Homo sapiens: one gene and its partner. Changing the gene in region 2 together with the main gene of any one other region gives a genetic interaction. Each region holds a gene or a part of one and is shown on either strand. Other genes may lie near its edges. The genes, in order: CHEK1 and MET.

What was found.
Region 1: changes in MET (region 2) and CHEK1 together harm fitness more than expected from each alone (negative genetic interaction), as found in Homo sapiens cells (one large-scale study listed by BioGRID).

Annotation. Positions count from the first base shown.
Region 1 is NC_000011.10:125,638,513-125,642,337, reverse strand, and holds part of CHEK1 (serine/threonine-protein kinase Chk1), read right to left. Parts: intron 1-3,825. UniProt on the Homo sapiens protein: Serine/threonine-protein kinase which is required for checkpoint-mediated cell cycle arrest and activation of DNA repair in response to the presence of DNA damage or unreplicated DNA.
Region 2 is NC_000007.14:116,675,001-116,678,825, reverse strand, and holds part of MET (hepatocyte growth factor receptor isoform b preproprotein), read right to left. Parts: intron 1-3,825. UniProt on the Homo sapiens protein: Receptor tyrosine kinase that transduces signals from the extracellular matrix into the cytoplasm by binding to hepatocyte growth factor/HGF ligand. Regulates many physiological processes including proliferation, scattering, morphogenesis and survival.

The DNA of each region.
Region 1 (3,825 bases), on a different chromosome or scaffold from region 2:
TGGTGGTAAGTACACTGAAGGAAAATAAAATGAAGAAACGTGTTGGATTGCGTATGTCCACAAGAGAGTAAAAATTTTAAAAATTTAAGAAATGTGTTAGAGGGAAGAGGATACCATTTTAAATAGCATGGCCAGGAAAGGCTTATTGGAAAGATGACACTGAAGTCAATATCCAAAGAAAGTAAGAGAATAAGACATGCAAATAAGTCCCATGGGAAAAAGCATTTTCAGACATAGGAACAGTCACTACAAAAACAGTGAGGTAGAAGTGTGCCTAGAGCACTTGGAGAACAATAAGAAGAACAACAATATGACCAAGGGGGAGCAAAGCAGAACTGAGGTTGGAGAGGTAATGTAAGGAACAAAATTGTGTAAGAACTCACAGGTCATGAACTGATTTTAGCTTACACTACACGTGAGAACTAAAGCATTGGAGGATTTGGGTAGAATAGTGATATATTCTAATTCACTTTTAAATCAGAACATTTTGGAAAGATATCATGGTAATTTGGAATGATAGGGTAACAGTAGAGGTAAAAAAAAAAAAGGTAATCAGATTCTAAGATTTTTTTAAAGATAGAGGTTAACAGAATTAGCTGGTGTACTGGATGTGAAGTAAAAGAGAATGAGAAAAATGAAGGATGATTCCAAAGTTTCTGATCTGCATAATAAGAATAATGCAGTTGCCATTAACCAACATGGGAAAGACTTTGAAAAGGAATGGGTTTGAAAGGAAAAGATCAGTAACTCAGTTTGGAATTCATCAAGTGTGAGATGCCTCTTAACATTCAAGTGAAATTTCAGAAGGCAGTTAAGACATGTAAGTTTGGAATTCAGAGGAAAGGTCTAGGTTGATATAAATGTGACTATCAACATATAGTTTTATTTAGAGCCATGAAACCAAGTAATATCACTAATGGAGTGAGTGTGGAGAAGAAAACAAAGGAGATCCATAGATTCAGCCCTGGAGAACTCCAATAGTAGGAGGCTGAGCAGATGAAAAAAAACCATCAAGAGACTGAAAAGAGCGACCAGTGAGAAGGACGAAAATCAGAAGAGTGTAACGCCTGGAAGCCAAATGAAGAAAGTGTTTAAAGGAGGAGGGCATGATCAACTGTATAAAATATTGATGAGATAAAACAAGAGGTCTGAGAACTGACTACAGTAGTACCCCCCTTATCCACAGAGGGATATGTTCAAGTGGATGCCTGAAAGTACAAATGGTACCAAACCCTATATATGTTCTTTCGATCTAATAACCAAAACAGCTACTAAGGGAGTTACAAGCAGGTAGCACATGGAACGTGAATACACTGGAAAAAGGAGTGATTCACATCCCAAGTGAGATGAAGTAGGACAGCACAAGATTTTATTATGCTACTCAGAACAGCACACAATTTAAAACCTATGGCAGGGCATTGTGGCTCATGCCTATAATCCCAGTACTTTGGGAGGCCGGGGTGGGTGGATTGCTTAAGCCCAGCAGTTTGAGAACAGCTGGGATTACAGGCGTGAACCACCACACCTGGCTAATTTTTGTATTTTTGGTAGAAAAGCATAGGCAACATGGCGAAACCTCATCTCTACCAAAAATACAAAAATTAGCCGGGCATAGTGGCTCACACCTGTAGTCCCAGCTACTCGGGAAGCTGAGATGGGAGGATCATTTAAGCTCAGGAGGTAGAGGTTTCAGTAAGTGGAGACCACGCCACTGCACTCCAGTCTGGGCGACAGAGCGAGATCCCGTCTCGAATTAAATAAATAAATAAAACCCATGAATTTCTTTTTTTTTTTTTTTGAGACGGAGTCTCGCTGTTGCCCAGGCTGGAGTGCAGTGGTGCGATCTCGGCTCACTGCAAGCTCCGCCCCCCGGGGTTCACGCCATTCTCTTGCCTCAGCCTCCCGAGTAGCTGGGACTACAGGCGACCGCCACCTCGCCCGGCTAATTTTTTGTATTTTTAGTAGAGACGGGGTGACACCGTGTTAGCCAGGATGGTCTCGATCTCCTGACCTCGTGATCCGCCCGCCTTGGCCTCCCAAAGTGCTGGGATTACAGGCGTGAGCCACCGCGCCCGGCCAAAACCCATGAATTGATGAATTGTTTACTTCTGGTACTTTCCATTTAATCTTTTCAGACCTCGGTTGACCACAGTGGACTATTACATTGAACTTGGCAACACGTTCCAAAAATCACTGTGACTCTTGGCAACAAAATAGATGAAATTGAAAACTAGTTTTGAGGTGTTAGAGATGAGAAGCAATTTTAGGAATATTCAATTGTGAAGAAGATGGAATGGTAGGGAAAAGTGGAGTTAAGAGAAATTTTATTACCATTATGATTTGATTTTAAAATGGGAGAAAAAGCATGTAGATATGCTGATGAGAAAGATCCGGTAGAGAAGGAAAAATTAATAATGTAGGAGAGGGAGAAAAATTGCTAGACAAAGTCATTGAGTGGGTAAGAGAAAGACCTGGCTTACATCCAGAGCAATTTATCTACAGCAATACAGGATGAAAGAGAATACATGAGCATAGAGGCAGTTAGTATGGAGGAGATGGTGGTGGGAGCTTGCCTAAGTTCTCTTGTGGCTTTCATTTCCCAGTGACACAGGAAGCAAAGTGAACAACTGAGAGTGAGGATGGAGAGAAGATAATAAAAGTTAAGGGACCAGACACAGTAGCTCACACCTATAAACCCAGCACTTTGGGAGGCTGAGGCAGGGGGATCACTTGAGGCTAGGAGTTTGAGACCAGCCTGGCCAGCATGGCAAAACCTCTACTAAAAATATAAAAATTAGCCAGGTGTGGTGGTTCACACCTGTAATCCCAGCTACTCGGGTGGCTAAGGCACGAGAATCGAATCGCTTGAACCTGAGAGGCAGAGGTTGAAGTGAGTGGAGATGGCGCCACTGCACTCCAGCCTAGACCCTGTCTCAAAAAAAAAAAAAAAAAAAAGAGAAAAGTATTATAAAAACGTGATTTAGGAGAACAGGACAGAGAAAGATGTGGGGAAACGAAGGCCAAATGCCAGGAAGCATTAAGGGCCCACTTGAGATTAGTAATCCTGAATTTAAAGTGAACATTTTTGGGTATTTTTCTCCTGCTGCAATCTGTTGTGCAGGTACAAGTGTGCAGTACGTAGAAAACTACTAGATTAAACCCAGAAACTACTTACTGGGTTTTACCCACTAAGTATGATGAAGAGAGAAGGGGACAAGGAAATTGAAGATGATGAACGCAAAGCAGTCATTTATAATGACTAACCTAAAGATTTAAGATAGGTAAAGATGAAATCAAGGACCTAGAGAGGGAGCAGGTAAGAGACTGAAGAGATAGAATTAATTAATTGCAAGTCCAGATACAAAGGACTGTTTAAGTTAGAATATTAAGGGAGGAAGTCAGAAAAAATTATACTGGTGATCAGTGCAGCGTGTTCAAAGACAACATCACTATAGGAGAGAGGGTCAAGAAACAGTGAAGTCAGGATATCAGGAGGATGATCCAAATAAATATTTAAATCACCAAGAATCATGACGAAAATAACATCAAGAGTCATTTTGCAGACTGTGATAGTACGGCAGAAATTTTAATTTGGGGTTCAAAAGTTAGAGGGGAGAGACATAAAGGAAGATGGGAGAAAGTGACAATGAAGAATAAGGAGGACACCTGTACCATGTCCAGATCAAAGGACATGAGGGTATGGGAAAGAAAACACCTACCGCTTCAGAGGAAGCAGTGTCCTCAGGGGAGAATTGGACTTTAAGTTAGGACAAGGAGGAAGAAACATGCAGAGAGGTATTAAAGAAGAGTGAATGTTTAAACATT
Region 2 (3,825 bases):
GATTTAGTGAATCAAAGACACATGGATTAAATTTCCCTTAAAAGACCCCTAGGTTTAAAATTTAATAGCTAAAATGCTGGTCTAGATACACTCTGGTCCCAATGCTGGTCCCAAGCAAAGCCAAAACCTATTTTTAAAGCTAGGTTGAATTGTCTTATGGACCCAAACCTTGGCTGGGTTTTCCTTTCCCACATGATTAGGCCTCAAAGGAGGCAACCTATCTCTAATAAATTTACCACTTCTCTTTTTCTCTGACTTGCAAAGACCATATTATTTCAAAGGTCTCAGCTTTGAATGTCTTTCTTTACATTTTTAATAAAATATTAAAAATTAGAAATCTTCCACGGTCTTATCAAACAGTTATTCCCCAAGTCATTCTTTTTTAAAAAAAAACATACATTTTCAAATTGGACCTGAGAGTCTAGGTGCTGCCTCAGAATTCCAACTATTAAGGAGTAGGAGACCATTTCAAAACAGGAATAGACCACTGATCTTAATATGTATACTGTATGTGCACTGTTTCATGATATATTATTATATTTGCATTTAAAATAGTAGGAAGAAATACAGTACATAATCTCCCTTTCTAACACAGTGGCCTTCTGGAGGGCTGCTAGCTTGGGCATTTCACTGAGATTTTAGGATTAAAGGAAACAAATTAGTGCACAACCTGTGAGCTTTTATTCCTTTGGAAAAATAGATTTTAACACTGATCTGATTGCTTTTAAAGGGCACTGGAAACCAGGAGGGCAGTGCATGTTTTGAATTTCAATGGCAGGGTAATAACAACGGGTGAAGTTCAGTCATTTCCAGAGACAGAGACAGAGAGAGAGAGAGACAGAGAGAGAGAGAGAGAAAGACAATATTCCAAAGGGGGAGTTTATCCTGAATCAGAGAACTTGGAAATGAAATTGATGCATAAAGCCATGATGGATTCAGGTTTCAGAAAACTACTACTTCAGTTTAAGAATGAAATAACTAGATTACCCTTTAGTTTAGAAACGTACATAGTTTGATGTAAAGTATGTGGGCTGATGAGTTTAGAAAAATAACCACGTGCCAATAGGAACTGACATAAAATATTGGTTTTAAAAAATTTGTTTAGTTAATTTTCTGAGAATTTTAGAAAATAAAATATTTTGTAGAAGCAGTCCTGGGGCTCTCGGGCCATGCATGCTGCTGCAATTGGGACCATCAGGAGCCCAATCTGGCTTGCAGACTTTCTGCCACTGTAAGCTGTATGGTGTTTTAAAGACACTGAGTCAACATTTTAAAATTGGGAGAGTCCTAGCTTCTCTTGAAAATCTGAAAGATACTACCACATGGGCCCATGCCATACACTGAGCCTCACAACAGCTCTAATCACGCCAAGCAGTGACTGCCCCTCTGCTTTTCCTAAGCAGTTTGTCAATCCCTAGTGAAATGGTTAGTTTTCCTCATTTAAGTTACCTGTTTGCAAATCTTGATACAGGATATAAATAGGGGAATAAGGGAAAAGGAAGAAAAGAGGAAGAAAATCCAATGCAGTGACTTAATACTGGAAAGGAAAAGGAAGGAGAGCGAGGGGGAAAGAAAGAAGTGCATAGCAGACAGAAGCTGCACACCATCAGCAACTGCCTCTTGCTGTCTTTAGATTTATACTATGGAAGGGATCAGTGAAAAAAGCCATGGGTATCCTTCTCAACAAATCCCACTGTGACAGGCTCACAGTGTGGAAAATAAGAAGGAAAATTGTCTGAATGGAGCAATATCTCTGATAGAGGATGGAGTATGGGATGGGACCAGGCGGATGCAAAACAAAACAAAACAAAACAAAACAAAAAAACAAAAAAAAAAACAAAACAACACTCTGGGTCTTCTTCTTCCATGTCTCATAAACCAAGAGATGTGGGCCACTCCTGTATCTTCATCTTTAACATGGTAGCTAATGATGGCAGGCACTGTCCAGGTATTTCCCTACAAAAACAGGGGCACTATTCAGGTATCTCCCTCCAAAATCAGGGAGTCTATGGACAGTTGTGCAAGCTGTGAACTGCACAATTTCAGGAAAAACAAGATGAGAATAGCACTCCTGAGAAGTGCTCCTCATATGCGCCTGGCTCACTTCCTTATCTCCTTCAGATTCTAGCCCAAAGCCCACCTTTGAAGACAAGCCTTCCCTGACCTCACTATTGAGTTTTTCAATCACCATCCCACTCTCTCTTATCCTTGACAGTCACTATTCTCTTTTCCATTTTATTCTACCTTGAAGCTATTATCATCACCTGACATACAACACATTTCAGTTATGTATTTCTTTATTGTTTGCCAACTCAATAGAACAGAGTGTCATGAGGTTAGAGGTTTTCATCTGTTTTATACTCTGTGGAAATGCCAGATTTTAGAACTATGCCTCGTAGGTTGTCAAAAAATTGTCCTGAATGAATGACTAAATCCTCATTCACATTCTTGGAGTACAGGAACCTGGCTTTCACGATAACTTGTGATTCTCTAAGCACATTTCATAATTGCTATCCTTAATTATATTAGGAGAGATACATTTTCAAATTCTATTGCCCATTATATAATCGCCTGTGGGCCCTATAGCTACATAATTTATTATAGAAATTAAAATCAATGGGAGTAACCTACATAAACATACTTGCACACATTTATGCAATCACAGAGAGAAATATGTGTACCTGGGTATGTGATTACAAAGTTAACTTTTTTATTTCACTGAGCTCATACCTCCTGCTACAAATGCCACACGTGATTTTTTCTCTCAATTAAGTTTTACAGCTTATAAAAGCACTTTTTTCATTTTGTCCCATGAAAAGCAAAGTAGTCAGATTTTACTGGATGTTTTTATTGAAACAAATCCCAAGCGGAATATACTAACCTGTTTAACACAGCTGAAAAGATATCTGAGAATGGGCTTTCTGATAGAAGGATAGATTACAAAATTATTCACGGCTCTTAATCTGATAACAGGAGCAGAATGCCCCACACATATGAATGAAACCTTTTCTCGGTATGTCTCACTACAAAGAAAAGAAAAAAAGAAAAGAAAAGAAATTAAAAAAAAAAAAGAGAGAGAGAACTGGAGAAAGAGAAGGTGACAAAAACTCCAGGGACTAGATATGTTATATTCATCATTTACCACTATCTTAAGCATCCCTAATGATGCCTCCATGGAAAATGTTTCCAATAGTTGATGGCTGAGGAAAGGTGGTATGGTGCTATTGAAATAGCATGGAGCTAGTCTCAAGCTCAGTTTCCTTGTCTATAACATAAGAATGTTAAGATGTTATCAGACTTGCCTATCTTGTAAGGTCGTTTTGGTATCAGAAAGGTGATGTATGCAGAAACAGCTTGAAAATGTTAAGGTTTTTAAGTTCCAAACTTTGATTTTTAAAAAAAAATTCTATTATTTCATAGCAAATAGGATGATTTTGAAAGCGTTTCTCATGTGATGTCCTCTTAATAATTATGAATTTGTGTTCATTTAATATGTGATATTTGTCTGTGTATCTAGATCATAAACTTCTCAAGGGCAGATTCCATTTCTTTCTTTTAAAGAAAATGCTGTAGTACCTAGCACATATGATACTCTACCTATAGGTCCTAGCTATTTTTGGTCAGGCAAATGTGGATCTAGCAGCAACTCAGTGTCAGTTGAGAACACATCATCAAAGTGATTCTGAACTAACATTAGTCAGTGTATCTATCATTTATTACTGAGAAGTGACTATTTATTTTGCACTGAGCAAAACCCATGAAGAAACTCTGCCCTAAGGGCTTGGTGTCAAAAACACTAGTTTCAGCATACACCAGCCAGGAAAA